Homo sapiens: one gene and its partners. The protein of the gene in region 1 interacts with the protein of each later gene in a pairwise test. Each region holds a gene or a part of one and is shown on either strand. Other genes may lie near its edges. The genes, in order: SDCBP, NADK, PSMC6, TNFAIP8, CCDC106, SCG3 and CADPS.

Evidence for each region.
Region 2: the proteins of SDCBP (region 1) and NADK interact in binary tests that used the Homo sapiens proteins (3 or more experiments, as listed by UniProt).
Region 3: the proteins of SDCBP (region 1) and PSMC6 interact in binary tests that used the Homo sapiens proteins (3 or more experiments, as listed by UniProt).
Region 4: the proteins of SDCBP (region 1) and TNFAIP8 interact in binary tests that used the Homo sapiens proteins (3 or more experiments, as listed by UniProt).
Region 5: the proteins of SDCBP (region 1) and CCDC106 interact in binary tests that used the Homo sapiens proteins (3 or more experiments, as listed by UniProt).
Region 6: the proteins of SDCBP (region 1) and SCG3 interact in binary tests that used the Homo sapiens proteins (3 or more experiments, as listed by UniProt).
Region 7: the proteins of SDCBP (region 1) and CADPS interact in binary tests that used the Homo sapiens proteins (3 or more experiments, as listed by UniProt).

Annotation. Positions count from the first base shown.
Region 1 is NC_000008.11:58,566,761-58,570,917, forward strand, and holds part of SDCBP (syntenin-1), read left to right. Parts: intron 1-4,126; coding exon 4,127-4,157. UniProt on the Homo sapiens protein: Multifunctional adapter protein involved in diverse array of functions including trafficking of transmembrane proteins, neuro and immunomodulation, exosome biogenesis, and tumorigenesis.
Region 2 is NC_000001.11:1,761,080-1,765,236, forward strand, and holds part of NADK (NAD kinase), read right to left. Parts: coding exon 4,149-4,157; intron 957-4,148; coding exon 873-956; exon of another isoform or gene 814-872; coding exon of another isoform or gene 812-813; intron 1-811.
Region 3 is NC_000014.9:52,709,725-52,713,881, forward strand, and holds part of PSMC6 (26S proteasome regulatory subunit 10B), read left to right. Parts: exon of another isoform or gene 1-1,376; coding exon 1,377-1,444; intron 1,445-1,685; coding exon 1,686-1,800; intron 1,801-4,156; coding exon 4,157-4,157. UniProt on the Homo sapiens protein: Component of the 26S proteasome, a multiprotein complex involved in the ATP-dependent degradation of ubiquitinated proteins.
Region 4 is NC_000005.10:119,386,677-119,390,833, reverse strand, and holds part of TNFAIP8 (tumor necrosis factor alpha-induced protein 8), read right to left. Parts: intron 3,091-4,157; exon of another isoform or gene 3,082-3,090; coding exon of another isoform or gene 3,042-3,081; intron 1-3,041. UniProt on the Homo sapiens protein: Acts as a negative mediator of apoptosis and may play a role in tumor progression.
Region 5 is NC_000019.10:55,646,456-55,651,270, forward strand, and holds the start of CCDC106 (coiled-coil domain-containing protein 106), read left to right. Parts: upstream 1-1,756; 5' UTR 1,757-2,591; coding exon 2,592-2,622; intron 2,623-2,749; coding exon 2,750-2,854; intron 2,855-2,952; coding exon 2,953-3,129; intron 3,130-4,815. UniProt on the Homo sapiens protein: Promotes the degradation of p53/TP53 protein and inhibits its transactivity.
Region 6 is NC_000015.10:51,687,814-51,691,970, forward strand, and holds part of SCG3 (secretogranin-3 isoform 1 precursor), read left to right. Parts: intron 1-446; coding exon 447-589; intron 590-1,405; coding exon 1,406-1,555; intron 1,556-4,157. UniProt on the Homo sapiens protein: Member of the granin protein family that regulates the biogenesis of secretory granules. Acts as a sorting receptor for intragranular proteins including chromogranin A/CHGA. May also play a role in angiogenesis.
Region 7 is NC_000003.12:62,756,917-62,760,416, reverse strand, and holds part of CADPS (calcium-dependent secretion activator 1), read left to right. Parts: intron 1-3,500.

The DNA of each region.
Region 1 (4,157 bases):
AAGGAAGGTAGTATTCATTTTCTCATCTGCTGGCCTTTAACACCACAGCAAAGCTAAATTACAGCAATGAACCAACCATTCATATTTTGTAAACTATTCTGCAGTAGCCACTAGGCTGTGGCTTTTAGCATCATACAGTCCCTAGACCTTTTTCTCTCCATTCCAAATCCTGACAAGAGCCTGTGGTTTCCTCTACTTATGCAAAGTAAGCTTTTAATAAATAATGATATACAGAACCAGAGCTTATCAGTTTCCTAATATGGTGGGCAGAATTTGGCAGCAGTGACGCTACAAGCATGTTTTTTCCACATCCTTTCTGTTAATGGCAGAAACAATAGGCCCTGGCATGCTCCTTGGGGCACCCCAACCCCTTTTTTTAGTAGTGTCACATTTCAAAGTAAGTTTGAAATAAGTAGCTACATTTAATGGTTTACAGTACTTAAAATTGGGTTACATCCTTTTGTTTCATTTTTACTGCAAATAACATAATTAAATTTAACTTTGCAGGGAGCTTTCTATATGTATTCTTCAGTATTCCTTGGATTAAAAACAATAGCAATGAAAGAACAGAAATTCATAACTACATACAAAGGAGAAGTATTTTAAATTAATAAGCTGTGTTTTAGAGCAATTTTAGATTCACAACAAAATTGATCAGAAAGTACAGTATACCTTCTGTCCTCACACATGCACAACCTCCCCCAGTATCAGCATCTGCACCAGAGCAGTACATCTGGCTCATTAATATCACCTGAAGTCTACATATTTACATTACATCACATTAGGGTTCACTGTTGGTGTTATATGTTCTGTGGATTTTGACAAATGTATAGTGACGTGTATATAGTCATGTGTTGCTTAAAGACGGATATGTTCTGAGAAATGCCTCATTAGACAGTTTTGTCGTGCAAACATTATAGAGTGTACTTCCACAAATGTAGATGGCATAGCCTACTACACATCTAGGCAGTATGGTATAGTCTGTTGTTCCTATGCTACAAACCTGTATGATCCCACCTGTATGATACAGTAATACTGCATGTTACTGTACTGAATACTGTAGGCAATTGTTACACAATAGTATTTGTGTATCTAAACACAGAAAAGGTATGGTAAAAATACAATGTAAAAGATTTAAAATGGTACATCTGTATAAGGCACTTACCATGAATGGAGCTTCCAGGACTAGAAGTTGCGCTGGGTAAGTCAGTGAGTGAGCGGTGAGTGAATGTGAGGCCTAGGACATTATTGTATACTGCTGTAGACTTTATCAATACTCTATACTTGGGCTGCACTAAATTTATTTAAAAATTTTTCTTTCTCGAATTATAAATTAACCTTAGCTTCCTGTAACTTTAATTTTTTAACTTTCTGACTCTTGTAATAACATAGTTTAAAACACAAACATTGTACAGCTGTATAAAATATTTTCTTTCTTTATATCCTGATTCTATAAGCTTTTTTCCTATTTTTTAAATTTTTAGTTTTTAAAAATCGCTTGTAAGTTTGTTAAAAACTGAGACACACACTCACATTAGCCTAGGCCTGCACAGGGTCAGGATCATCAATATCACTGTCTTCCACCTCCACATCATCCCACTGAAAGGTCTTCAGAGGCAGTAACATGCATGGAGTTGTCATTTCCAATGGTAATAGTGCCTTCTGGAATACCTCCTGAAGGACCTGCCTGAGACTGTTTTACAGTTAACTTTTTTTGTAAGTAGAAGGATATACTCTAAAGGGTATAACACAGGAAATACATAAATGAGTAACATAGTCATTTATTATTATCAAGTATTATGTACCATGCATAATTGTAGATGCTATACTTTTTTATATATGACTGGCAGTGCAGTAAGCTTATTTACACCACCATCACCACAAAGTAATGAGTTGTTCTGTGTGACGGCAGCTATGATGTCACTAGACAGTAGGAATTTTTTAGCTCTTTTATAATCTCATGGGACCACTATTGTATATGTGGTTCATCATTGACCAGAACAGGCAGCACATGACTGTATACCATTGTAGCATTAGACAGAATAGGTTCACTGCTCGAAAAATTCTTTAATGCCTGTTCTTCCTTCCCTTCTAGAAACTCCTGGCAACCAATAATTTGCTTTTGCTTTTGTGTTTTCTTTAGCGTCAGGATGTCGCTCTGTTGCCCAGGCTGGAGTACAGTGGCACAGTCATGGTTCACTGCAGCGTCCATCCTCCTGCCACAGCCTTCTAAGTAGCTGGGACTACAGGCATGCACCACCACACCTAGCTAGTTTAAAAAGAAAATTTTTTTTTCCCCCAAAACGGAGTCTGGCTCTGTCACCAGGCTGGAGTGCAGTGGTGCGATCTTGGCTCACTGCAACCTCCTCCTCCTGGGTTCAAGCAATTCTCCCTGCCTCAGCCTCCCGGGTAGCTGGAATTAACAGGCATCCACCACCATGCCCGGCTAATTTTTGTATGTTTACTAGAGACAGGGTTTTGCCATGTTGGCCATGACAAACATGACAACATGCCATGTTGGTCAGTTGAACTCCTGACTTCAGGTGATCTGCCCACCTCAGCCTACCAAAGTGCTGGGATTACAGGCATGAGCCACTGTGCCTGGCCAAAACAATTTTTTGCATAGGCAGGGTTTTCCTATGTTGCCCAGGCTGGTCTTGAACTCCAGGCCTCAAGCAACTCTCCAGCTTCAGCTTCCCAAAGTGCTGGGATTAAAGGCCTCAGCCACTGTGCCTGGCCTAATATTTTATTATCTCCACAATTTTGCATTTTTCAAAATGTCGTATAGTTGGAATCATAAAGTATGTAGCCTTTTGAGATTGGCTTCTTTCACTTAGTAATATCCACTTAAGTTTCCTCCATGTCTTTTCATGTCTTTATAGTTCTTTTTTTTTTCCCAGTGCCGCACAGTATTTTTTTTGTTAGACATGATTCAAGAAGTAATATAACAAGCCACTAGCTCCTTTTAGCTAATCGGTGGTGAAAGAACTTTCAAAGTTCAACACATGTTCAATTTGTGGATTGTTATTTATAATTATAAAGATTTTCATGCTGTATTTTGTTTAAATCTAGAATGTTTAACAAATTATGAAATAATAAATATTAAAGGATGACTCAACAAGTATATCAGAACATATAATTTTAGTACCATTCAAAGCTTTCATAGGCTTTACTTATTTAAACTAAGCTTTCATATCTCCAAGCATCTTTGGGAATACTCTTGACATTGATTTTAGGGCTAGGTTGAGATACTACTATGAACTTCATTTTTAAAATGATACATTTCCAATAAAGTAAAAAGTTGGTAGAGATTGGTCATACAACTTATTACCAAACTTGTCTCTAATGACATATAGCTATTTCAGAAAGTCAGATCTAATTGTAAAGGATAAAGTATTTCCATCAGTGAGATACTTCATATGATGTAGGCCATCAAGACAGCCCTGAGAAGAGGATACTTGAGCATGAGTAGCATTGATAAATGCTAGAGTGTCAGAGTGTGTCAGAGTGATTTTGGCAAGTTTGTTTAACAGTTACAAATTACATTACCTTGTCATCATCGATTTATGTCAGTGATAAACTGTGCTATTTTCATAATTTCTGATATTTTAAAAGTATTTAGCATAAACCCCTTCCTATACTTGCTGCAATGAAGATAAAGATGATTTCAGTGGGACATGCTTAGTATTAATTTTTTAGGTGTTTTTCTGATATGTGACTTTTATATGAATATGGGTAAGGTTTTTTCTTATGCAAATAAAATATTTTTACTTGGACTAATTAGTAAAAGAATAATGAAAATGTAAAATTTATTCATTTTAGAATGCACTTTGAAAATATTAATTTATTGTGGCAGCACTATGAAGTGCTGGTTATAAGACATGTAGAATGGTACTTCTACAATTTTTTTGTGATAGCCTTAAAAGTATTTAGAATATCAAATATAGTTTTGATTTGCAGATTTCCTTTGGAAAATGTATTGCTGATGTGTTTGAAATTAAACTTTCTTACATAAATCTTCATTGTTTTAGTTTCTTTTTGGAAGTACTGGATTTAGCTTATAAATTATATAAGAATATAAAGTAAGTATAGCATATTGTTAGAATTTTCTTCTTTTCTTTTTCAGGCTCAAACTGCTTTTTCTGCAAACCCTGCCA
Region 2 (4,157 bases), on another chromosome or scaffold:
GCCTCCCGGGTTCAAGCAGTTCTCTGTCTCAGCCTCCCAAGTAGCTGGGATTATAGGCACGCGCCACCATGCTTGGCTAATTTTTGTACTTTTAGTAGAGATGGGGTTTCACCATATTGGCCAGGCTGGTCTTGAACTCCTGACCTCGTGATCCGCCCCCCTTGGCCTCCCAAAGTGCTGGGATTACAGGTGTGAGCCACCGCAGCTGACCAATTTTTGTGTTTTTTGTAGGGATGGGCTTTCACCATGTTGCCCGGGCTGGTCTCAAACTCCTGGGCCCAAGTGATCTGCCTGCTTCGGACTCCCACAGTGCTGGGACTGCAGGTGTGAGCCACTGCGCCCAGCCTGGATTATAATTCTTTACACATAAAACACAGATATCAGATCGATCACTGTTGCGTTTTTCCCATGACACTATGACGGGCCTCCAGGCAGAATGTGTTGACAAACTGAACCATCAAATAGCAAACGCAACCCACCCCAGAATTCTCACTCACTCTTAAAGAAACAAAAAGGCAGCCCTGAGGATCTCATGTGGAAGCCGCCACACCCACGGGCTGTGACCCGGTCTCCAGGCCCCGGCTCGCCTGCCGTCCACTTTCTCAAAGCCACTGGAAAAGCCACAGCTGGGGAGCCCCCGCTCGGATGCCTGCACTCAGGGGGTTCAGGGAGGACGCCCATGTGGCTTTTTGTTTAAATGACCTAAACATGTACTTCTCACATGAAGTGCTAGAATCTTCCTCAACACAGCGATCCCACAACTCCACACACATCCCGAGGACTCCCCCATCCCATGGCCCCCGGCACTCACATGATGGTCTAGGGGTTCTCTCCCTTCCAAGAACCCCCCGTCCTGGGGCCCCAGCACTCACATGATGGTCTGGGGGTTCTGCAGCACACAGGCCTTTGGTCCAAAAGTGGTCACCGGGCATGGCCCATGAAGAGAGCGTGTCCTCCTGTGGGGAGAGGGCAGTGTCAGAGCCACCAGGGCCTGAAACCAGACATGCAGTGACAGACACAGATACAGAGGAGGTTACACGGTAAGGCATACATGCAATTTGAAAGATGCCAACTCCATCTGCCCAGCAGCCACACAATAGCCCTTGGAAGGTTCTGCCCAGGTCCATGGCTGCACTGGAGCGGCACCTGTGAGGAGCACGCATGCCCACGCGCCGCTCAGATCATGACCCAAGCCGGGGAGAGCTTCAGCCCAAACAAGGAAAATGCCAGGGCCAGGGCCAGCCTGGGATCAGAATTCCTCAGTGTCTCCAGGACCCCTCTCTAGATCTGCATTTGGGACTCAAAACCTGAGACAACATCTCATCTCTAAATCGTCTAGATTAAAATTCTAGCACAAATGTTCACTCTGAACTCATGTCAATAAAAAAGACGTAGGCCGGGCGCAGTGGCTCACACTTGTAATCTCAGCACTTCAGGAGGCTGAGGTGGGTGGATCACGTGAGGTCAGGAGTTTGAGACCAGCCTGGCCAACATGGTGAAACCCCCATCCTTACTAAAAAAAGAAAAATTAGCCAGGCCTGGTGGCGTGTGCCTGCAGTCCGAGCTACTCAGGAGGCTGAGGCAAGAGAACTGCTTGAACCCAGGAGGTGGTGGTTGCAGTGAGCCGAGATCGAGCCACTGTACTCCAGCCTGGCTGAAAAAAGTGAAACTCTGTCTCAAAATGAATGAATGAATGAATGAATGAATGAATGAATAAAAGACGCCAGATGAACGGCTCAACAACTTTCCTAGTGATTTAAACATGGCCAGGTCACAGTTAAATCACCCAGCCAGGGGCTGTGGCAGCCGCACGCGTCCTGGGGAGAATGCTGTCAGGACCGCTGTGCTCCTCAGGGTCCAGCACTGAGGCTGCCCTCGTCCTAGGTGCCCGGGAGCCTCCCAGTCCCTTCACAAACTCAGAAAACTTGCACACAGCTGGCCAGGCAACGGCCCAACAAAATCCTCAAGTCCCAATGCAGAAGAACGGCCTTCCGCTGCCTCGCAGGGCCAGACAACCCCAGGAGAGCCGTGGTGCCCTGAGGGCTGCTCCACAGGTGACACAGGCGTGGCCATCAGTGGTCACGGACTTGTTTACCTCAGCCTTTTAAAAATTGGTAAGTACAGGCCGGGTGCAGTGACTCACGCCTGTAATCCCAGCACTTTGGGAGGCCAAGGCAGGCGGATCACGAGGCAGGAGATTGAGACCATCCTGGCTAACACGGTGAAACCCTGTCTCTACACAAAAATACAAAAAATTAGCCGGGCGTTGTGGCTCACGCCTGTAATCCCAGCACTTTGGGAGGCTGAGGTGGGCGGATCACCTCAAGTCAGGTGTTCGAGACCAGCCTGGCCAACATGGTGAAATCCCATCTCTACTAAAAATACAAAAATTAGACAGGCGTGGTGGCATATGCCTGTAATCCCAGCTACTCAGGAGGCTGAGGCAGGAGAATCACTTGAACTCGGGAGGCAGAGCTTGCAGTGAGCCTAGATCACACCACTGCACTCCAGCCTGGGCGACAGAGCAAGACTCCATCTCAAAAAAAAAAAAAAAAAGAAGAAGAAAACGAAGTACATTACAAAAGAATTTTACTTACTTACGAACTGAAAAGATTATTGCGGAAAACAATGTTTCTCGAAGTGGGTGTTGGGATTTAATGTTTCCTTCCCAAGGACAGGCTATGCTTGGGCGTATTTGGCTACCTCCTCCCCCACCTCACCCTGAAGGCGCCTGTCACTCACTATGGAGGCGACCTCTGACCCAGGGCTGCTGTCATCAGGTTCAGAATGCAACAGAAATGGTGCATTATGCCAAAGAACCCACAGGAAAAAAAAATAAAACCCCAAAGCAATTCTGTTCACGCAGTCACTGCGCTGGGGTGGCCTGGAGGTACAGGACAACGACCCCCACTGACAACGAGGCAACGAGGCATCTGAGAAAGGCTGAGTGGTGACGTGGTGCCTGCGGGATGAAGGCAGCCACCAGCGCTCGTAGCCTCCTGGCTCAGGCAGCGACTCTGTAGACAGAAAACGTGGGAGTAGCCTGTTTCTCCACGGCTGCCACCACGTCAGAGGCGCTACAGGCTCTCCCATCTCACTGGGTAAGACAACATGCTTTCTAAGACTACTTTTCACCAAAAAGCCCCCCTTGCATTTGATAGTCGTGATCCTTGTTAGGCAGCGCCGGCTCTGGCAAGCTTCCACCTAAAACTCACCACATTTACCATCACCAGAACCGAGAGCACCATCCCCAGGCACCATCACAGCTGTGCTTGTGCGGCCACCGTCATGCAAAGCCCGGGGCGCTGTTGCCCAAGCAGCATTGTGCAAGGGTGAGCGCTGTGGGCACTCTTGGCACAGGAGGGAGCCACTTGCCCAACATGTGAGAGGGCTGGGCCCGCCCAAGGCCACGCTCATAACTCTGCCTCCACCAGCCCTGCTCACAGTGCAGAACCCCCCAGCCTTCGCCTCTCAAAACAAGCAGAGCCAAGAGGGATGTCCCCTCACACCCCAGTGACTTCTGTAGAGCAAATGTTTCCAGGCCAGGCACAGTGGCTTGCACCGGTAATCCCAGCACTTTGGGAGGCTGAGACGGGCAGATCACCTGACGTCAGGGGTTCAAGACCAGCCTGGCCAACATGGTGAAACCCCGTCTCTACAAAAATACAAAAATTAGCCGGGCATGGTGGTGCACGCCTGTAATCCCAGCTTCTTGGGAGGATGAGGCAGGAGAATCACTTGAACCTGGGAGGCGGAGGTTGCAGTGAGCCAAGATTGCGCCACTGCACTCCAGCTTGGGGGACAGAGCGAGACTCAGTCTCAAAAAAAAGTTTCCTCTCCAAGTGCGCTTCAGTCTAACATCAAGGGTCAGCGTAGGCGCCAGTTAGATGGTTCTGTGCTGATACAGACAGATAGAGAAACACGGTGGCACCCTGTGCCTGTGCTGGCACCTGGGAACGTGCGCCAGGCAGGTGTCCATGGGCCAGGATCCCCCTTCAAGGGCACAGCTTCACCTGGGCAAGGACCCAGCCTCACCTTCCGGATGCATCGACGCAGACTACTCAGGAGAATTCTTCATAATCGTTTTAAGAAAGAATATTATGAAATCAGACGAGAAAAAAAAGAGGAACCATCCCTCCCAGTTGTACCTGAACTCC
Region 3 (4,157 bases), on another chromosome or scaffold:
TTAGATTTTGGCTTTTTTTTTTTCAGGTTTTAGAATATTTGTGTTGTACTGGTTGAGCATCCCTAATTAAAAAAAATCAAAAGTTTGAAATGCTCCGATGAGCATTTTCTTTGAGCATCATGTCAGCATTCAAAAAATTTCACATTGTGGAGCATTTTGGATTTTCAGATTAAGAATACTCAGCCTGTATTTCCTATAGATGTAAACATTGAAATAGCTTCATATTGATTTCTCCTCTTATTTTTTCAAGTAACCTCACTTCTTAGCCGTTTTTTCCTTAATTGTTATATTAATCCTAGTGTTTTGCCTATCTTCCTAAATTTGAAGCTCTTTGTAAAATCCTGTGACAAGTGGTCAGTAATTTATATGATTCCGAAATTGTATTGGCACGCAGTTTTTTAAACTATTAAAAAGTAACTTGGGTCGGGCGGGGTGGCTCATGCCTGTAATCCCAGCACTTTGGGAGGCTGAGGTGGGCAGATCACGAGGTCAGGAGATCAAGACCAGCCTGACCAACATGGTGAAACCCCGTCTTTACTAAAAAATACAAAAAAAAATTAGCCGGGCATGGTGGCACACACCTGTAATCCCAGCTACTTGAGGCTGAGGCAGGAGAATTGCCTAAACCAGGGAGGCAGAGGTTGCTGTGAGCCAAGATGGCGCCACTGCACTCCAGCCTGGGCGACAGAGTGAGACTCCGTACTCCATCTCAAAAAAAAAAGTAACTTTATCTTTGAAAAGTAACAACATCCTGAGAGTGAGGCAGATCTAGTAGATTCTAATTTTAGCCAGATAAGCCAAGAAATTATTTAGTATGATTCAACCTAATGTGTAATGTGTTCAGCATGTGCCTGTCATGTAGCAAAGGCATGAGTGATGGTTGCTGGGTTTTGGGGCTTTAAATTTAAAGCATTTTAATAAAAATCTCTAAGGGGAAACCGTGCATTTTTCTCTACTCTCATGAGCATTTAACACATTCTTCCCAGAAGCTGTACATTTCAAAATAAATCTGATGAGCACACCTTTAAAATGCTTCCCTTTCCTTTCCCTAAAATGTTCACTAAGGGATTTTTCTATAAATGCTTTGGTAGCAATTCCCAAAGTCACTGTACCATTGCTGCCTCAAGCTTTGTGTGTTAGTCATTTCACATTTTACACTGAGATTACACAAAGGGGCATGCTTTTAAGGAGCAGGTGGAAATCACTTTGAATTACTTATTTTATAAGCCATTTTGTTAGCATAGAGTTTATAATCTGATATTTGTGTTCTCTCTGGAGGGTAAAAATGAGTGTTTGGCTTCTAAATATTAAACTCTCGTTAGAGTGTTATTCCGTTTTTAAGTGTTGATGTAATATCTTTTGTTTTACAAAACTAGCTTGACAAAAGTAAGCTGAAGCCAGGAACAAGAGTTGCTTTGGATATGACTACACTAACTATCATGAGGTGGGTTTCTTATTCTATTTAGTTCACCTTTTATTTTCACAAAGGGTGGTTTTTATCTGAGATATATGCTTCTTGAGATCACTGAATATTTTGGCACTTTTTCCCTTTTACTAGTTTCTAATTAAGCACATCTTTATGAGATCAGCTACAGGTGCTTGCTTGAGCAAGTTATTTATATGCTATCTGTAGGCTAAGAGAAAATATATCTTTCAAAAGAAAAATACATACCTTTTCATTCTAGATATTTGCCGAGAGAGGTGGATCCACTGGTTTATAACATGTCTCATGAGGACCCTGGGAATGTTTCTTATTCTGAGATTGGAGGGCTATCAGAACAGATCCGGGAATTAAGAGAGGTTGGTACTGTGTGCCTTGTTCTCTGAACTTAGCTAATAAATACTACTAGTTTTAGGATTCTTAACAGGAGAAACAGGATGAAAAAGTACTTTTTGTCTAAATGGTAGTTAAGAATATTATGTATTTACTATTCTTGCTAAGAAGAATAGCACTGAATTTCTAGCTGTGAAAATTACTGTTTTTTTTTATTTGGAGATAATTTGGTGTTAGAAAAATCCTGCTCTTTTTGTGGCAAAGGAACGGAGAAAAAGCTAAAAATAATTGATGTAATCTGATATCCTGTGGTTTTGATTATCATAATAAGTTACTTGGGTCAGAGCATATTTGGATAATGTGTGTGATGAGTTTTTTCCATAACCTCATTAATACTAGCTTCCCACTCTTACAGAAGAGTAGGGTACCTGTTCCTTAAATATTTTATTTTGTTAAAGCTGTTTGCTGCCATTCCAGAAAACCACTGGCTTTAGGATTGTCTTAAATCTTGTAAGCTTTTAGGTGAACAGTCAAATCAGGATTGCCTTACTTCATAGCACAGACAGCTTCTTAACTGTTATCTGTAAAGCAAATTACATTGTCCTATGGATTTTATCCTAAATTAGGCTGTGAATATTTAGGAATTAATGGGAATAATTGGAATGTCTTACACAATCTGATTTAAGCTTTAAGCCAGTTCTCATACTTCAGTACATTAATTTTTTTTGGAACACTTATTAAAAATACACATTACTAGGCCCTCTGAGTGGTTTTGATGGACTAGATTGGGGGTAGGCACAGGAATTAGCATTTAAACAAGCATTCCAAGTGATTATGAAACCAAATTTTTCTTTGACAATACTTGAGGAAGCACTGGTCTAAGTGTAAAAAAAAAAGGCAGTTCTCACCTGTATTAATGAAAGGGCAACAGAGGAAGAACAGGTGCTTCATAAAACGGTGAAAACTTGCTTTCAACAGTGATTTGCTGCATTAGCCATAGGAGCAGAAAGAATCCCATGTATACATGCAGTATCCTTTACTGTCTGCAGATACTTTACACTTTAGAGTATTGATTTCTCTCACTTCTGGCTTTTCCCAGTCACGCTTTATGCACATATGGACACAACTTTTTTTTTTCTTTTGAGACAGGGTCTGGTTCTTTTGCCCAGGCTGGAATGCAGTGGTGCAGTCTCAGCTCACTGCAACCTCTACCTCCCAGGCTGAAGTCATCCTCTCACCTCACCCTCCCAAGTAGCTGAAGGCATGCGCCACCACATGTGACTAATTTTTTTATTTTTTGTAGAGATGGGGTTTCACCATGTTGTCCAGGCTCTTCTCGAACTCCTGAACTCAAGCCATCCTCCAGCCTTGGCCTCCCAAAGTGTTGGGATTTACAGGCGTGAGCCACCGCACCTAGCCCAACACAACTATTCAATAGAAATTTCTCTCTCGGTCAGGCATGGTGGCTCACGCCTGTAATCCCAGCACTCTGGGAGGCTGAGGTGGGTGGATCATCTGAGGTCAGGAGTTCAAGACCAGCCTGCCAATACAGTGAAACCCCATCTCTTCTAAAAGTACAAAAATTAGCCAGGTGTGGTGGTGGCGCCTGTAGTCCCAGCTACTCAGGAGGCTGAGACAGGAGAATCTCTTGTACCCGGGAGGCAGAGGTTGCAATGAGCCAAGATCATGCCATTGCACTCCAGCCTGGGCAACAGACTCTGTCTCAAAAAAAAAGAAATTTCTCTCTTAAGTTACTGGTACTATAAGTAATTTAAATTGGACTTTCAGATCTTCAATTTCTCTAGTCTCTACTTTTCTTCCTTGAATCAGTCTTGAGAGCAGAACATACTGTTCTTTAAAAGCTGCCGTGGCAAAATGCCAACAGATAAAAATTGTATATACCTTTTCTCTTGGTATGTTGTCAAATCCATCCCCCATTTTAGAATTATTTTGTGTTGTATTTTCAAATGCAAACTAGTATAGATCTTTTGAGTTGTGTTTTTTGTTTATATGTTCATTTGACTTAACTGATTTTTTTGTGGTATAATTTTTCATTGAGGTATAATTACATTAAAAAAATGTAGATTCTTAAGTGTACATTTCAAATATGTTTGGACAAGTTATATATCTGTGTAACCATCACCCCAATCAAGTGTGTGGTTTATTTAAAAAACATTATTTGAAATTTTTTAGATTTAAGAGATCTTAAATCTACCTGGAGCAAAACCTCTTAATATAAATGGTTTTACCTAGCATGGAAGTCTAGGTCTATTAAGAATTATGATGTGTACACCTAACTAAGGTGATATTTGACTTAGAGTATTTGAAAGTACATTAAAAATCTTGACTAACTTTTTAAGAAAGATTTAACTTCTTTTCTAGG
Region 4 (4,157 bases), on another chromosome or scaffold:
AAAAATTAAAATTAAATAAAATTGAGGAAAAGAAGAACCAAATTAGATTTGAAATTTGGACCAAAGTAGTTCGTGGTATATAGTAGAGGCAGCTGCAAAATGGTTCCTTATGACCTGAACATCATTTATAAATATACAGTGCCATACATCCACTCAAAGAATGTCTTGATTGAATAAGAAAGGGTCCCCTCACAAATGTCGAAATTTAAACTTCTGAAACATGAACTGAAACTGCAGAAGAACTAAAATATATTTTGAAAAAGAGAAGGAAAGTGAAAATGTGTGAGAAACAGCCAACTTTATGGAGAAGTTTCCATCATTTAATGTTTTATGTTTTTATCATTTAAGCAGAAATCTGTTTCTATTCCTATTCTTCAATGATTTGCAAAAGAGTATAAAGATTAATTCACACTAAAGAATTTATGTCAAAAGAAATGGCATCCATGTAGCTAACAGTATCACATTAAAACCAGGGACCATATTTCATCTTAGAACTCCTGATATAGACCTCAAAAAAAATCAATAAACTTGATTTATATAGGGATACCCAACCATTTTCAGCTACTCAGCAGATAACCAGGATTTCAGTAATATATTACATATAAAGTTGAAATGTTATTGTGTTTTTTTTTAATGTTTTAGAACATGGCACAGTCTACAAATATCTTACCTGGGATTTACTACAAGTCTATCAGTTGGACATACTTTATGTTGTGAAATATTGAAACCAGAGGGAGAGGTATTCATAAGATTTCTCCTTTATCCAAGACTGGACTTTCATGTTTACACCTCTTCTCAGCTACTTTTCTGATTAAATCTCAATATCCCATTTAACTTCAAACATGGAAAACAAAAACTCTATGATACAGCACTTCAACTTCCTGCAAGAGAGTGTGTAACAGGCAAATCTACTGCCAACTAAGCAAGATCATTCCCCATTTACTGGTAATCAAGTATGAATCAAGATAGAGAAGTTGATCTCTGAGGCTTTCATATTTATCCTAGAGGAACTTCAAACCCCGCTCCAGAAACACAGCAGCTGTGTCACACTTTCCTTTTATTCTTTGGGTTATTCCAGTGAAGTCGTCTTTTTAAATGAGGTTGAAGCTCCTTGTTCCCCTCCACCATCTGAAGCTCTTTCTCCCCCTCCACCAAGAAGACATGCATGAGTAGATTTATTTTCCAGCATTAGAGAAAGTTTTTTTGAAGCCAACTGGGGCTTGTGGCTGAGAGTCGCTGGCCAGGGATGTGTGGTCTGTGCTCATGAAGTTTGTTTCTTTTTCTTGCAAATTAACTGCTGTTAGCCATTCCTGTGCAGGCTCATTTGTCAGTTCCACATGCTCTACCAGATCCCTTAAAAGTCTGGTGTATCTCAGAGCTAGTCCTGGATCAAGTTTTTCTCCTTCAGTCTATCCTCACCCCTGTGTGATCTCATCCACTGCCACAGCTTCAGATACCACCCATGTGCCAATGACTCCCATAGCCATAACTCAGCCCTGACCTCTTTTCTGGACTCATTTTGTAAGTGCATTCAAGATTTTTCTTTCCTTGACTATTTTGCAGGCATCTCAAATTTACCATATGCAAAACTGATCTTTGATTCTCTCCTGCCTCCCTACTAAGTGCTCCTCTTTCACTCTTTATGATCTCAATTAATAGCATCCCTTCCAACCTTTTGCTCAATCAAATCAGAGACCTGGGGATCATCCACCATACCATTCTCTCCCTCACCCAGTCCATTATTAAGTTCTTTCCATTCCACCTTCCTCCTGCATTTCTCTGAATTCTATCCATTTCCCTCCATCTCCACGGACAGCAGCCTAGTCCAAACCCCTTTCTATCTCTTTTCACATATCAGCCAGAGTTTCAAGAAATGAAATTTGCAAATGGGGCCGGGCGCAGTGGCTCACACCTGTAATCCCAGCACTTTAGGAGGATAAGGTGGGAGGATCACTTGAGCCCAGGACTTTGAGACCAGCCTGGGCAACATAGCAAGACCCTGTCTCTACAAAAAAAACTCAAAAAAAAAAAAAAATAGCTGGGCATGTAGTCCTATTTGCTCAGGGGGCTGAGGTGGGAGGACTGCCCGAGCCCAGGAGTTCAAGGCTACAGAGCTGCAGTGAGCTATAATCATGCCACTGTACTCCAGCCTGGGCGACACAGCAAGGCCCTGTCTCAGAAAAGAAAAGAAAAGAAAAGAAAAAAAAAGATGCTTCATGTAAGTTCTTTGCTAACTATCACACCTCCTTGTTCCTTAAATCCTCTTCATTTGCCTACATTTTTATTGTCTGCCTCTCCCTACTAGGATTTAAACTCTGAGAGCAAAGATTCTGTGTATCATGTTCACTGTGTCAACTTGCAGGCCTAGAGAGTGGCTGGTCCAGAAGCAGCAATCAATTTCCCCTATCTCATCCACAATATACTCAAATACTTTTCTATGAAAACATGTTGGCCTGTAAAACGAGAGTTGTAAATACATTAGTGGGTGTTTTTGTTTGTTGTATTAAAAGGTAGAAAAACAGGTATTTGTTTTACCTCACTAAACATGTGGTTTTTCTTCCCTCTAAGTGCGCTCCAGAGTATGATTTCTCTTACTGTCATCAACCAGTTCTTTTAAAGAGGAGAGATTTGTTGTGCATAATGGGAAAACATCCAAGGACAATAATGCAAATATTTAGAGTAAAAGCAAGGTGTAGTTCTGACTTGAACTGTAGCAGGAGATTAAACACAGGCCCACCTCTACTTCTGGCTGGATCTATGTTTAGACATGTGCCAGAGGGATACCTAAGGCATGTCCTGGGAAGCAACTAAGATGTAAACAGGAGATGTTCCCCAAGGAGAAAGTGCTGAAAATATTCATTCAGTTTTTTGCCTCTTAAGATCAATTCACTTGTGTTTGGAAACAGACATGTAAATTGTTCATTAATGAAGAATAATGCTGTATTTAAAAAAAAATACAAAGCATTACCACCACATTAAAACTGTTTAAGATTATTTTCTAGAAATAGGGTGTAAATGTTATTTTACATTACTTATCTTACCTCCCTCCCTCTCTGTCTCTGTATCTCCTCCCTTGGCCATTTCAGCAACATTTGCTGTAAGGCAAAGTGATATTTAGGGAATTCTGGCTTTAGCATCAAAATTATAAAGTTAGAGATAAATATGGTTAAAATATACTGACCCAAATATTCAAGAAAAAATATGCTCAGAAGGAAAAAAAAGTCCTTTGTTATTAATACTTAGTTTTATGAAAATTAACAAAAATGCCCCATAACATAACTACTCCCACTGAGAATTTTCTAATAAAGTACTCAAATCATTTTCTTTACAGTCTTACCAGTAAATACATAATTTTTTCCCCTCAAATCTATTATACTTGGGACTCTTTAACAGTGATGACAACAGATGTACATACATTGCAAATTCTTGCCTAGTTAAAACTCGATCCAGGTTTCCAATATTAGGAAGGATAGAAAAGATAATAATTTGGAAAGCATGTCTGGCTGTTGTCTGTTAATAAAAGTTCTTTAAATAAATATATAAAACCTTAGCTCTCTTGTATCTAAATAATTCTAAATCTAATGGGACTTAGTAAAAAGTCAGCTTTGGTGATAAGAAAGTGGCCAGAACAAACAACGAACCCTGTCATAAGAAGTCAGCAGGCGAAGAGTTGACCTCCCTACATGGAGATTTGGCAGTGCTCCAGAGAAAAGCAATGAACGCTCGGAGTAGCTAGTGATGTGTCAGTGTCACCAGCTTTCATACTCAAAATCCCAAAGTCAGAAATTCAACAGCATAGAGAAGAAACAACAGAGGGAAAGAGAGAGGGAGAAGGAAGGAAGGAAGGAAAGAGAGGGAGGGAGGGAGGGAGGGAGACCCAGTAGAAGCAGCACAGATATGAACTCTAAAGGGGGCTGCCCTGGAAGGGTCAGAAGCAACGACCATGGCAGCAAGCTGGAGGCAATCTTATCAACTAGAGAGAGAAGACAAGTGCCAGGCACCTTAATCCCAAAATTGGCCTTATGCCACACAGATGGAGGCTGTCACACAGAACATAGTCTTGGGAGAATCAATACATCTGAAGTCCTTAACCTGATACGGAATGCACATTTTGGGGTATATGCACATCCCCCCAAGTGGTTAAGAACCAGTGACAG
Region 5 (4,815 bases), on another chromosome or scaffold:
TTTTTTTTTTTTTTTCTTTTGAGACGGAGTCTTGCTCTGTCGCCCAGGCTGGAGTGCAGTGGCGCAATCTCGGCTCACTGCAAGCTCCGCCTCCCGAGTTCATGCCATTCTCCTGCCTCAGCCTCCTGAGTAGGTGGGACTACAGGCGCCCGCCACCATGCCTGTCTAATTTTTTGTATTTTTAGTAGAGACAGGGTTTCACTGTGTTAGCCAGGATGGTCTCGATCTCCTGACCTCGTGATCCGCCCCCCTCTGCCTCCCAAAGTGTTGGGATTACAGGCGTGAGCCACTGCGCCCGGCCCACAAAAATTTCTTTACCATAGTTAGCTTTAGTTTGTGCATTTTTTTTTCCATCAACTATTATTATTACTATTTGAGACGGAGTCTCGCTGTGTCGCCCAGGCTGGAGCGTGGTGCGATCTCGGCTCACTGCAACCTCCACCTCCCCGGTTTAAGCGATTCTCCTGCCTCAGCCTCCTGAGTAGCTGGGATTACAGGTGTGCACCACCACGCCCGGCTAAATATTTTTTTAAACTGCTGATTTCATCCTATTCTATTGAATTCTCCACCCATGAACCTGTAGTTTGGAAAAGACCAATCTAGGGCAGATGGCTCCCCCTGGAATTTTTGGACCAGGCTGCAGTTAATCTGTAAAGTGGGGAGGGGAGGATCATGGTCACAGCTTTGCAGGCGGTGCAGACATTTAGATTCTCCCTCCATCGGGTTAAGACCTTGCTCTTATAAGGGCTGGCCACAGTCCAGAGCTTGGATGCTTCTGGTGAACAGGAGAGGCAGGTGGAGCTGAGCCTGAAGCTTAATAAACATCTGCTTATTCATTCATTTTTCTTGCCTATTTTGTGCCAGGCACTGTGCTAGGCCTCATTTGCTCTTCCGACCTGTTTTTTTGGGAGGAAGAACAAATCTTCCGTTCATACTCCCCAGAGTGGGAAAGAGCCTCCCAGAGGCTGCCATCATACCCCACCATCTGACCTCAAATAATACCAGCAGCGCTCCTCTCTTCAGCCCTGACGATGGCCAGGTGCTGGGCTGAGCTTCTGTGTGTCGCATCACTGCATCCTCACAATAAATTTAGAAGGGCTTGTAATTTCCCCATTTTGCAGGTGAGTTAACAGGCTGGGGAGGAGCAGGAACAGTCAGGACTGGAATCTAGCTTTGCTCCAAAGCCAGCTCTTAATTACCAACATGGGGATGGGGGTGGCGTGTTCCTGGCCCTCATTTTCCGGGAGAGGGGTAACTCCCCCGATTTTGGCCCCCACATCCCTGAGAACCTTGGGGTCTGGCTGTAGGAGGTAGGGGAGCTCTGAGGGGTCCGCGCTGGCTAGTTCCTGAGAGAGCGTTAAAAGTAGATTCTCCTTTCGCTCCAACTTTCTCGGTGTCTCAAACACTCTCCTGCCTTCTGGGCCCATTGGGCACACCGCCACCCAATCCGGGGACCCCCGGAGACTCGCCAGCTCTCCAGGATGGGAATTTCGTGATGTTCCCTGCCTGAGCTTCGGGGAGGGCGGGGGAGTGCTGTAAGGGGCTATCGCGCAAGTGCAGACCCTCTGCTTCTGCCGCAAACGGCGGGCCTCACCTGGACCCGGGGACTCTTCAACGAGGGGCGCTAGCCTGGCCCGACTGGGCGAGTCCCCGCGTCCCTGCCCGTTCCGTCGCTCAGTTCCACGACACGCTCCCCTGCCGCCCCGCCTGTTCGCGGGTGGGTGGGCGCTTCCCTCGGCTCCCCGTGACACTTTGCAGACGCTCCCCGGCGCCGGGCATGGGCGCCGCCGCCGTCGGTCCCCGAGCCGGATTCCGCGAGCGGGTGGGTGAGCGCGGGGGGCCTCGGCCCCTCGGACCCCGGGCACCCGCGGGCGGGGGATGGTGGCCGCGTTTGCACCCCCGCCCTAGTGCATGTTCCCGCTGGAATCGTTCCACGACCGCTCCCCCTCCCACCCGCGGGACAAAGGGCGGGGGCGGGGGGGGCGCACCCCCACGCGTGACCTTTCCCCGTACTGCGCACGCGCCCAGCCCCCACCACCGGGGGACGGTCCGCCCGCCCACGCGAGTGCGGGGGAGGGGTGTGGGGGCCCCGAAGGTAGAGGAGGCAGCGCGCACGGGCTGGACCTCCTCCTACCCTGGGAAGTTGGGGCAGTTTCCCCCTGCACCTGCCTCTTCCTTAGGCCTGGCAGTGGCCCGCGATGAGAGAGGGTCCTTCCCCTTCAGGCTAGGTGTCCCTGGTCAGGCGACCCCTTGGGGCACCCAGCAATTTAGGGCTTCAGCTTCCTTTTCCTTCGATACCCAGGAGCCCACGTCCCCAGCTCACTTCTCCCCCAGGACCTAGGCGGCTGGGCCCCCTGCCCCTGACTCCAGGAGCCCAGGAGTTTGAAGCCCAGGCGCGTTTTGCCTCAGTCCTGGGGTCCAGGCTCCCTCCTCCCTCAGACCAGGGGTCCAGGCCAGAAGGTCCCTCCTGTCTCACTTCACCTCCCCCAGGATGGACCCTCCAGTCCATCTGCGTCTCTCCATTTGTGGCTGCCGTTTCTGTCCAGTGCCCCTGAGGCCCTCGGCTGCTGGGGTCCGTAGGAAGCCGCGCCATGAATGACCGGAGCAGTCGGAGGCGGACAAGTGAGGAAGCTGGGTCCCCTTCCCTACCCTGGGTCCCAGTGCGGTCGGCTCCAGGCTGCCGTGGTTGGGGGGTGGCCTGAGAGGCCCGGGGAATTCTCTGGGGTAACCCGGGGCCTCTCCTCTCCAGTGAAGGACGATGAGACCTTCGAGATCTCCATTCCCTTCGATGAGGCACCCCACCTAGACCCACAGATCTTTTACAGTCTGAGCCCCTCTCGGAGAAACTTCGAGGGTGAGCTGAGGGGGTGTGGAGGGACTGGAGTCAGCTGGGAAGCCAAGCCCTGAGTCCCAGGGTGTGACCTGGTCCCCCCACCCTCGCTGTGTCCCTAGAGCCTCCGGAGGCTGCGTCCTCCGCCCTGGCTCTGATGAACAGCGTCAAGACCCAGCTGCACATGGCTCTGGAGAGGAACTCCTGGCTGCAGAAGCGCATCGAGGACCTGGAGGAAGAGAGGGACTTCCTGCGGTGCCAGCTGGACAAATTCATCTCTTCTGCTCGGATGGAGGCAGGTGTGTGTGGGGTGCTCTGATCCACATGCCTCCCTGTCCCGCTACTGGGTACCCGCTCACCCAGACTCAAGGCTCCACTGTTTGGCTGGCTGGGTGGGACCTGCCATGTTGGCCCTATCTGCTAGTCCCCTGCCTGTTTTGGGCCCCCAGGCCCAGCTGCCTCCTCACTTGATTCCAGGGCCTCATCCCCATGAACTGTCTACTGGGGCCCGTCCTCCTGCCTTCTCCGTCAGCTCCCCAAATCCCATCAGCCTCCAGTGCCCTGCCATCTGCTTCCTTGGCCCATGGTGACTTCAGGGACCCTGGCACCTGAGAGCCCCTCTCTTCTGACTCCTAGGGGGACCTTCCTTCATCTCTTTGGCCAAGAGGCCCACCCTAGTTCTTTGGGTTTCCTCAGGGGGCCCCTGCTCCTCCTCCCGTCCCTGTCTTCTCCAAGATCCAAGAGTCCAGCCATCCGGCCTCCTCCTGTCCCCCCCTCCCCTCTGTGACACCAGGGGCCATCTTCCCACCCACCCTGTCCCATCCTTGGTTAATGAGCACTCCTTCCCCATCAAAGACATTAAGTCCCTTCCTTTGTGGGCCTTTTTGGGTGGTGACCCCAGCAGGTGCTGTCCCTCAAACCCTGCCTGATTCCTGGGCAGTCCCCACCCACATACCTTGCTCTGCTATAATTCATGGCCAGAAGCAGCCCAGATAGCTCCCACAGCAGCACCCAGCCCCAGCCAGTTCACAGCTAGCGTCTTCTCTTGACTGGTGGGACCCTGTGCCCTGTTTAATACATTTTGGACCCCAGCCCCATCCTCTTCCCCGGATGGTCAGGCCGTTTGCCCGACAGCCCATGGCCTGGAGAACCCACACTCTACCCCACCTACCCTCATCTCAGCCTTGCTAGCTCCTTGGCTGGGAAGACCCCTCAAAAGCTCCCACATCTCTCTTTGTGAATTCAACCCTTTCCCCAAAAATCCTAGGCAAGGGGGCTATGGTCTTGTGGTGTCTCTGTTACTGGAAGCCCAGCATCTGGGGATCTGGCTTTCCCTCTGCTCGGGAACAAACCACCTCTGGCTGCCCTTGGGCCTGCCACTGTCTCCTCTCACTGATGGTTCCATCCTGGGTGACTGACTCCTTTGCACAGACAGTTTGGCCCTGCGGCTTCGGCACTTTCCCAGTGGGGACCCTGGCACCAGAGCCCTCCCCTAACCCGCCTTCTAGAGGAATCTGTGTCTGGGCCTCCGCCTGCCGGCTCCCTCTGTCTAGATGGAGGTGGGACCCAGCCTGCTGGACCCAGGGCCCCTGATTTCTCTCGGTCTGACCCCCCGACTCCAGCCAAGGCCTTGCCTGCCTCCTGGGTTTCCAGAGGCTACTCTCCAGAGGTCCCGCCCAGTCCCCAGAAATTTCTCCCTCCCCTATGGGAACCGCGCATAGTCACAGGGGTCCTGAGGCCCCTGGTCGGCTGCCTCCGTAAGACCTCTTGCCAACCCAGGCCTCTGAGAAAATGCTCCACCCATTACCACCTCCCACAGACCCCAACTGGCTCTACTCAGCCACCAGCGTCTCTACCGTACTCCTTGTCTCTCTGTCTCTTTAGGGGACCAGCCCAGGTTGGGGGATCCAGTTCGGGGACTGCAGCCTCTCTCAGTCCCGGGACCTGTGATGGGATGTCTGGTCCCTTGGTTCATGTGTGTGTCT
Region 6 (4,157 bases), on another chromosome or scaffold:
GCCTGCAAAGGTAGTACATGTGGGGATATTACCAAACTATCTATTCCCTGTATGGAACTGGAATATCAAATCATACAATATATAGAAGGGTACATTGAATAATATGACATGCTATATAAATATGGCATACTATGTTAATAAAAAGTATAATATGGTTTGTATTATTGGTGATAACAATAAATGGAGACTACTTTTCTGTTGCCTTTAGCTTTTCCTTCCTCTTATAGTCACCTAAGAAAGTTTCAGAATGTCCATTATCATACTAAGTTTTTAACATGAAGACCAATTTTATTTCAAACCGAGGGTTTCTGTGGACCGAGAACCACCATAAATACATTTCAAACATATCTGAATATACAAAAGCGAAGTACAGATTATAAGTATAATATGATGCATGAAATAGATCTATGATCACTATGGTGTGAAGTTGTGGTCGTTCTGTCTAGATGATCCAGATGGTCTTCATCAACTAGACGGGACTCCTTTAACCGCTGAAGACATTGTCCATAAAATCGCTGCCAGGATTTATGAAGAAAATGACAGAGCCGTGTTTGACAAGATTGTTTCTAAACTACTTAATCTCGGCCTTGTAAGTCATTTGGTAGGAAATAAACCAAATTCCTAGTGCAGTTTAGAGTATGCCAAGAAGCCAAGTCACTTGCCTCAAGTAGCCAAGTGTTTATAATGTGTCTTCCTTCTACTAGGACCCGTAGGTTTTAAGGACAAGCAAAGCACCATTCTTTTTTTTCTAGGAGTTTATCATCCATCAGAAGAACTAGGCAAGTAGACACACGCCCAAAATGCCAGCTGCTTAAAAACCATAAGAGCCAGAGAATAGCTTATATCCAACTGGCAGTAAGGAAAGGCTTCAGAGGAAGAGGCGTATGAAGGAAGCTTAGAGGGATGGTTAGGATATAACCAGCAGAGGTAAAAGACATGTATGTGACAAAAAAAGAAATAACATGAGCAAAAGCATGTGATGTGTATTTTTGAAACTCCAGGTGATCTAATTTGAATCCACCTCAGCTTGGCTCTTCTGCCCTGACCTGGCCCTGACAGGCTTTATTAAGATGCTAATTTTGTAGGATGTCAAAGGTTATCTGACTATGACCCAAAGCTGTGGAGGGGCAATGCTCAGGGTGTTTCTCAAAATATGTGGTCCATGGGTTTCAACAGATAGAACTAACAGCTTGCATGGTGGGCCCGAAGATACTTCTTCCAGGAGTGCTGAGCAATCCCTATAACAGCCAGCATGTGGTGCAGGCGTAAGTGAGGGCTGTCTGAAAGATGGTTCAGAAGATTCCTCTTTAAAAAATACATGTTTGACTACAGTTTAGTCCACATTATTTTTTAATAACAAGACTGGGAATATAGCAGTTATATATGTTTTGCCTTTTTATGATAGATCACAGAAAGCCAAGCACATACACTGGAAGATGAAGTAGCAGAGGTTTTACAAAAATTAATCTCAAAGGAAGCCAACAATTATGAGGAGGATCCCAATAAGCCCACAAGCTGGACTGAGAATCAGGCTGGAAAAATACCAGAGAAAGTGGTATGTATGTGTATATATGCATATGCATGGGGGTGTGTGTGTGTGTGTGTGTGTGTGTGTGTGTACTTCTATCTGTATAATAATTGCCTTACTTGATACCAAAGAAGATTTGAGGTATGTGGCATTTTTAGCCCATTTATATTCAGGCCAGACATGTTGGCTCAAACCTGTAATCCCAGCACTTTGAGAGGCTGAGGTGGGAGTTGAGACCAGGAGTTCAAGACTAGACCTGGCAACATAATGAGACCCCCATCTCTACAAATAAAAATAATTAGCTGGGTGTGGTGGCACAAGCTTATAGTCTCAGCTACTCAGGAGGCTGAGAGGAAGATCGCCTGAGGCCAGGTGTTTGAGGTTGCAGTGAACTATGATTGCACCACTGCATACCGGTCTGGGTGACAGAGTGAGACCCTGTCTCAAAAAATTAATTAATTAATTAATTTAAAAATATGTATATACATAAAATACCAAAAAGTTAAAAGATATAAATGATCTCTACTCTGAAAATAATGTAAAGATTATGTTATATTCTATTATTTGGTAAAGATTACATCTTATACCCCACAGTAAAATAATACATAATAATATGTGAAGTAACAATATCACATAATAACATCTGTGTGTACAGTCCCAGTGAACTGCAAGCAAACATCTCACAGTTCTTTTGGTATCCAACATCTGTTCACAGCAGATGTCATCATCTGTGCCCAATCCCCCCACAAAGAAGTGGGTTGACTAGATCTTCTGCTACACCAGCTTTTGTGTTCCCCAGAGCTAGCTGCCTAATGCTGCCTCTCTGTTCTTGGCAATGCTCTTCCACCTGCTCCTTCCCCTTTTCATTGGTTTAGATGCCTATTTACCCAGGCTAATTTCATCCTTCCTTCCCTTTGTTGGACTCCTTGCGTCTTCATTTTTTCCTTAGCACCAACCAAGCTGTTGAGATCTTTCTCCCCACCTTGAATTCTCTTTAAAACTTTAGATGAAACTGACCATAAGGGGATATCAAATTCCTCATCTGTCCTTTGATTTTCCTCTGTAAAGCACCCAGACCCATGGCTCCTCATCTCCTCCAGCATCTTATCTCAAATACAAAGACTATAGAGGCTGATGGTTCTGTTTTAGAGAGGAGAGAAAATAGAAATTGGGTCTGGATTTCTTTTTTTTTTTTACTGGATAGCCTAAAAACTTTCCTCTGCTCTCCTTACTTCCAATCCTCACCAGCTGCCATCTTTTAAAGCAGCTTTTGAAGATTCACCCACTCAAAAAAAAAGTTCTAGATTTATCAAAAAAAAAAACCCTTATGACTTTTGCTCAAGCTTACCAGTCTGAGCTAAAATGGACACAGCTATTTCCATAATTCTTCATTCCCATTACATACTCCTATTCACCTATCTCTAAAATGTTCATATGCTTGACCTGTTTACTCATGTTACCTGAATGCATCAATGCAAATAAAACACAAATGAAATATTATTTCAACAAATATTTATTGAATACTAACTCTGTACCAAGCACTGGAAATACCATGCCTATTTAAAAAGACATAATCCCTGACTCATGAAGCTCAAAGTCTAGTGGAAGAGGTAGATCATGTTTAAATCATCATGTATTTTCATTACAATTGCATTAAGTGCTCTGAGGAAAGAAACATGGTTCTATGAGACCTCAAAAAAGGAGGCTGACCTGGACTTAGGCTCAGGAAATGCTTCCCTAAGGAAGTAACTTGAGCTGAGAACCGAAGATCAAATAGGAGTTAACTTGTGAACATGAGAGGCAGCACATAGAGAAGGATGTGTGGAGTATCCAAGCAACTGAAACAAGCACAGTGTTGCTGGCACAGAAAGAAAGAGCAAAAAGAGAAGAGACTGGGGAGGTGGACCCAGGCCAGACCATGCAGCGCCTTATGAGCCATGGATGGACTCTGATCTTTATTGTAAGAACCATGAGAATTTTCTGGTCCCCTGAAGAATTTTAAGCAAAGGAGTTACATGATCAGATTGTTAAAAAGATAACTCTGGCTATAATGTGGAAACGCAGTATTGGGCATAGATTTGGGGAGGGTGATGTTGCAGTTAGCAGGTGAGAAATGAAGGCTGCTTGGACTAGAGTGGCATAGTGGAGGGAGAAATGTGCAAATTTGGGATAAATTTTGAAAGTGGGGCCAACAAGGCTACTGATGGATTGGATGGGGGAAAAGGAAGAAGAGGCAAGAAAGGCTGTTAAATTTCTATCTAGTTCACTGAATGGAGAATGAACCATTTACTAAGATGCAAGTCACTGAACAAAAACCAGGTCTGAGAGAAAGATTTTGTACACTCATCCAGACAGCACTTAAACTTTACCCAAAAATTCCCAGGTGTGACTGCTCTGCTAGGGATAGACATTCTAACAGGCTTTCCTGTATCCTGGCACCAGCCCTCCTGGTGGATTCTGTGAACTCAAAGCTTCCCTCTTCATTAAAAGGCAGTTTTTCCTGGGGAGACTCATGATAATTTATGGAGGTAAACATGGCCAGAGAAAGAGCCCAGAAATTCCCGTTTTTCCCCTGAGCAGGAGCTGGGGTCTTCAGGGGGTTTTCCCTGAGGTAGAGCACCTTTCCCTG
Region 7 (3,500 bases), on another chromosome or scaffold:
CTCTAAATAAATTAAAAATAAAAATTGTGTCCGACAGAGGTGGGTTGAGTTCTAGTCCTGTTACACACTGACTCTGGGACCTCAGCTATGTCTGAGCCTTAGTTGCTTCATCTTTAATAGGACCTTCCTTGCCTAATTGCTCTCAAGACTAAATGAGAATATATATACCTGGACAGTTCCATTATTAATATATTAAGGTTAGAATATATTAATATATTAAGGTTAGAAATGAGCATGGTGGTATGGTGTCCATATGCTGCATAGAAATAGAAGAAGAGAGTTGAAAGTTGATAGAATCAATTCACTCCCTGGGCATGGAGGAAGGGAGGTGCAAGATGGAGCAGGGGAAAAGGGCATAGAAAAGAAAAGGGAAAGTACTTTTGCTCCTAATCTAGCACCACCTACCACAAGGTCATGGCCCAAGATCTGCTTCTGAAACTTTGCCCAGAATCCTTTACTTTTTGGTGAAGAAGATTTTTAAGATTTGAAAATACATTTTATTTTAGAAATGAAAATGCACCTTGCCTCAAAGAAGGTAAAATTTGTATTTTTCCAGGTAGAAAAGATGTGTTTCAAATGACCGTGAAAGTAAAACATGCCCACTATAAAAATAAAACAGACAATGTAGAAAAATCTCTGCATTTACATGGTTAAAAAATACTTGCAATCCCATCATCCTAGATAACCAAAATTAAACTTTGGTTTCTATCTTTCCAGGTACTTTCAATGTATCTATGCATGTCAAGATAACTATTTGGCTTGCATATTAAGGTGGGAAATTACCACAAACTATTAAGGACCCACTTCTTTTATTTAACACAGTTGTTTTCAGTCTCCTTCCTACCTTTCCAAAGGTCACACAAATGGCATACTCTCATCAGTAAACTGTCTTATTTCCTATGGTATTCTAAATCCAGAGCCATGTTCCTATCCTCCAATCCCACCTCACCCCTGCCATTGGAAGGCTCTGGTCCATTATAACCATATATCATGGACATCTTTGGATGGTAATGAAAAAATATATATCTTTTTTCATGGCTGCATGATATTCTATTTAAAAATAACAGCTAACTTGTATTACATTCTTAGCCGAATAGTAGGCAACAGGCTAACCAACTTGCAGGCATAATATCACTGAATCAGGATTCAGGGATCACCAAAATCCTACAAAGGAAGGTTGTTATAACTCCCATCTTAAAGGTGAGGAAATTAAAGCCCAGGAAGATTAAGTAACTTGCTCAGGTGGCAAAGCTAGCAAGCAACAGAGCCAGGATTTGAACCCAGGTGTTCTAATACCAGGGCCCATCCTCCTAACCATGATGTCTACCCCTTTCATTATTTATGTGCCCATTTATTAATAGCAACGAGGTGTGTGTTTCTTGCAAACCTTACTTACTCCAACATCTAGATGTTTTTCTTATTTATATTGAAAGGATATGCTTTTTCAGAACAGGAATGAATCTGCTGTGGCTTCTCAGCTTATCAGCTAGCAAATGGGAGCTAGGCCAACCTCATCTGTAATGTGAACAGTCACTAAGTACTGATGTGTTTGTATGTTTCTAAAATGACCTTGAGGTTGCTTGGCTCTGGTGATGGAGGGAAGGACTGATGGATGAGGTCGAGTTGCTGAATTGACTGTCCTTCACAATTCCATATTTATTTGTTTATCTTCCATCTCTCATTATGACCTGTCTGGAAGTTGGCAGAAAAGCAGGGAGGATTTATGGATGTGCCCAGATAGAACTGGGCTTGGGGTTAAAGTCTCTTGTGGCAGCCACTAAAAAGCAAAAACAGAAACAAACACGGATACAAAATACAGACAGAGCTCCCAGCACAATTGAGTTTGAATAGTTGTTTTAGAGACACACAGGCACATCAGTACTTAGTGTTTGTATTCATTATAGGGTGAGGCTGGCCCAGGCCCCACTTCCTCTTTGTCAGACTGAGAAGCCAAGACAGATGATGTGCCTGTAGAAATAGTTTCCTGCTGCCACCTTCTCTCCTCATGGCTGTCTTGTCTCCATTGGGCAATTCATCTTTACTGTCTCCCCAGTCTTTGGCCTCTTTCCTCCATGTTCTTATCATTCCACTCATCTCTCCTCTTTCTGGGATCTGGCAGTTGTATCTTAACACAGGACAGATAGATCCCTCCACTTTTCAAAGTCTTCTCAGTTTGATCCTCAGCAAAGAAGAAAGGCTGGATTCCTTCATTGTTTACCATGAAGGAGAGTGAGACTGATGGAGGTTAGGTGACTTGTCTTCCACTGGTAATTCAGAAGTATTTATTGAGTAGCTACTATGTACAAAGGAAGGGGCTAGTGAAGCAGATGCTATGCCCAGGATTCAGGGTTCACCTGATATGGTTTGGCTTTGTCCCCACTCAAATCTCATCTTGAATTGTAGCTCCCATAATTCCCACGTGTCATGGGGGTACCCAGTGAGAGGTAATTGAATCATGGGAGCAGGTCTTTCCCATGCTGTTCTCTTGATAGTGAATAAGTCTCAAGATATCTGATGGTTTTATAAAGGCGAGTTCCCATGCACATGCTCTCTTGCCTGCTGCCATGCCACATAAGACGTGCCTTTGCTCCTCCCTTGACTTCCACCATGATTGTGAGGCCTCCCCAGCCATGTGGAACTGTGAATCCATTAAATCTCTTTCCTTCACAAATTACCCAGTCTTGGGTATGTCTTTATTAGCTGCGTGAGAACAGACTAATACATCACTCAACCAGTTACACCAGCTGGGACCCAAGTGCCAACATCTTTATTTCTTACCCCTTGTTATCAGGCCCCATGGAAAATCTAGCCTAAGTCTCTTGTTTTAAGAGACCAATATACCGTGTGCTGGTTTCCCGTTGACCTTCTCGCCCCAATCCAGACATAGTCTCGCTCCATATTTTTCCTGCTAGAGGAGTCTGCTTTGCTCTTATAGTTCATTCACTCATTCCACAAATATTTACTGAGCACCAGCTACATGCCAGGCACTGTCTCAGGCACTAAGAAGCAGTAATAGAAACAAACAACGACTACCCTGCCTCCCTGGAACTTATAGTCTAGCTGGAGATCAGATATTTACCAAACAGTCACAAAAACAGTGGCAGATGGCAGCTGTGGAAGGGCTTTAGGAAAAAAGAATCTGGGGCTGAGAGCTTATAACTGAGGCCCATTTCGGGTTTGTGGGATACTAATGTGCATAGATGTAGAGGAGAATATAGCTTCATTGTTGATTGAATGTTTTCAAGTCACCCCTTATGTTTATTAGCACTGACAACAAAGGCTTAACCCCTTAGTGTCCCCACTGCCATCACACTCACCCGGTCTCGTACAAGCACCTCTCAACTGGCCTCCCTGCCTATTTTCTTGGCTCCCTTCATCAGTCTCTTTTCCACATTAAAGCCAAAGAATGTGAACTGGTTTGTGCCGTGTCCCAGCTTAAAACTTTCAATGGCTTTCCAATGCCCTTAAAATGAAGACCAACAACCCTAATCCCCTCCTCC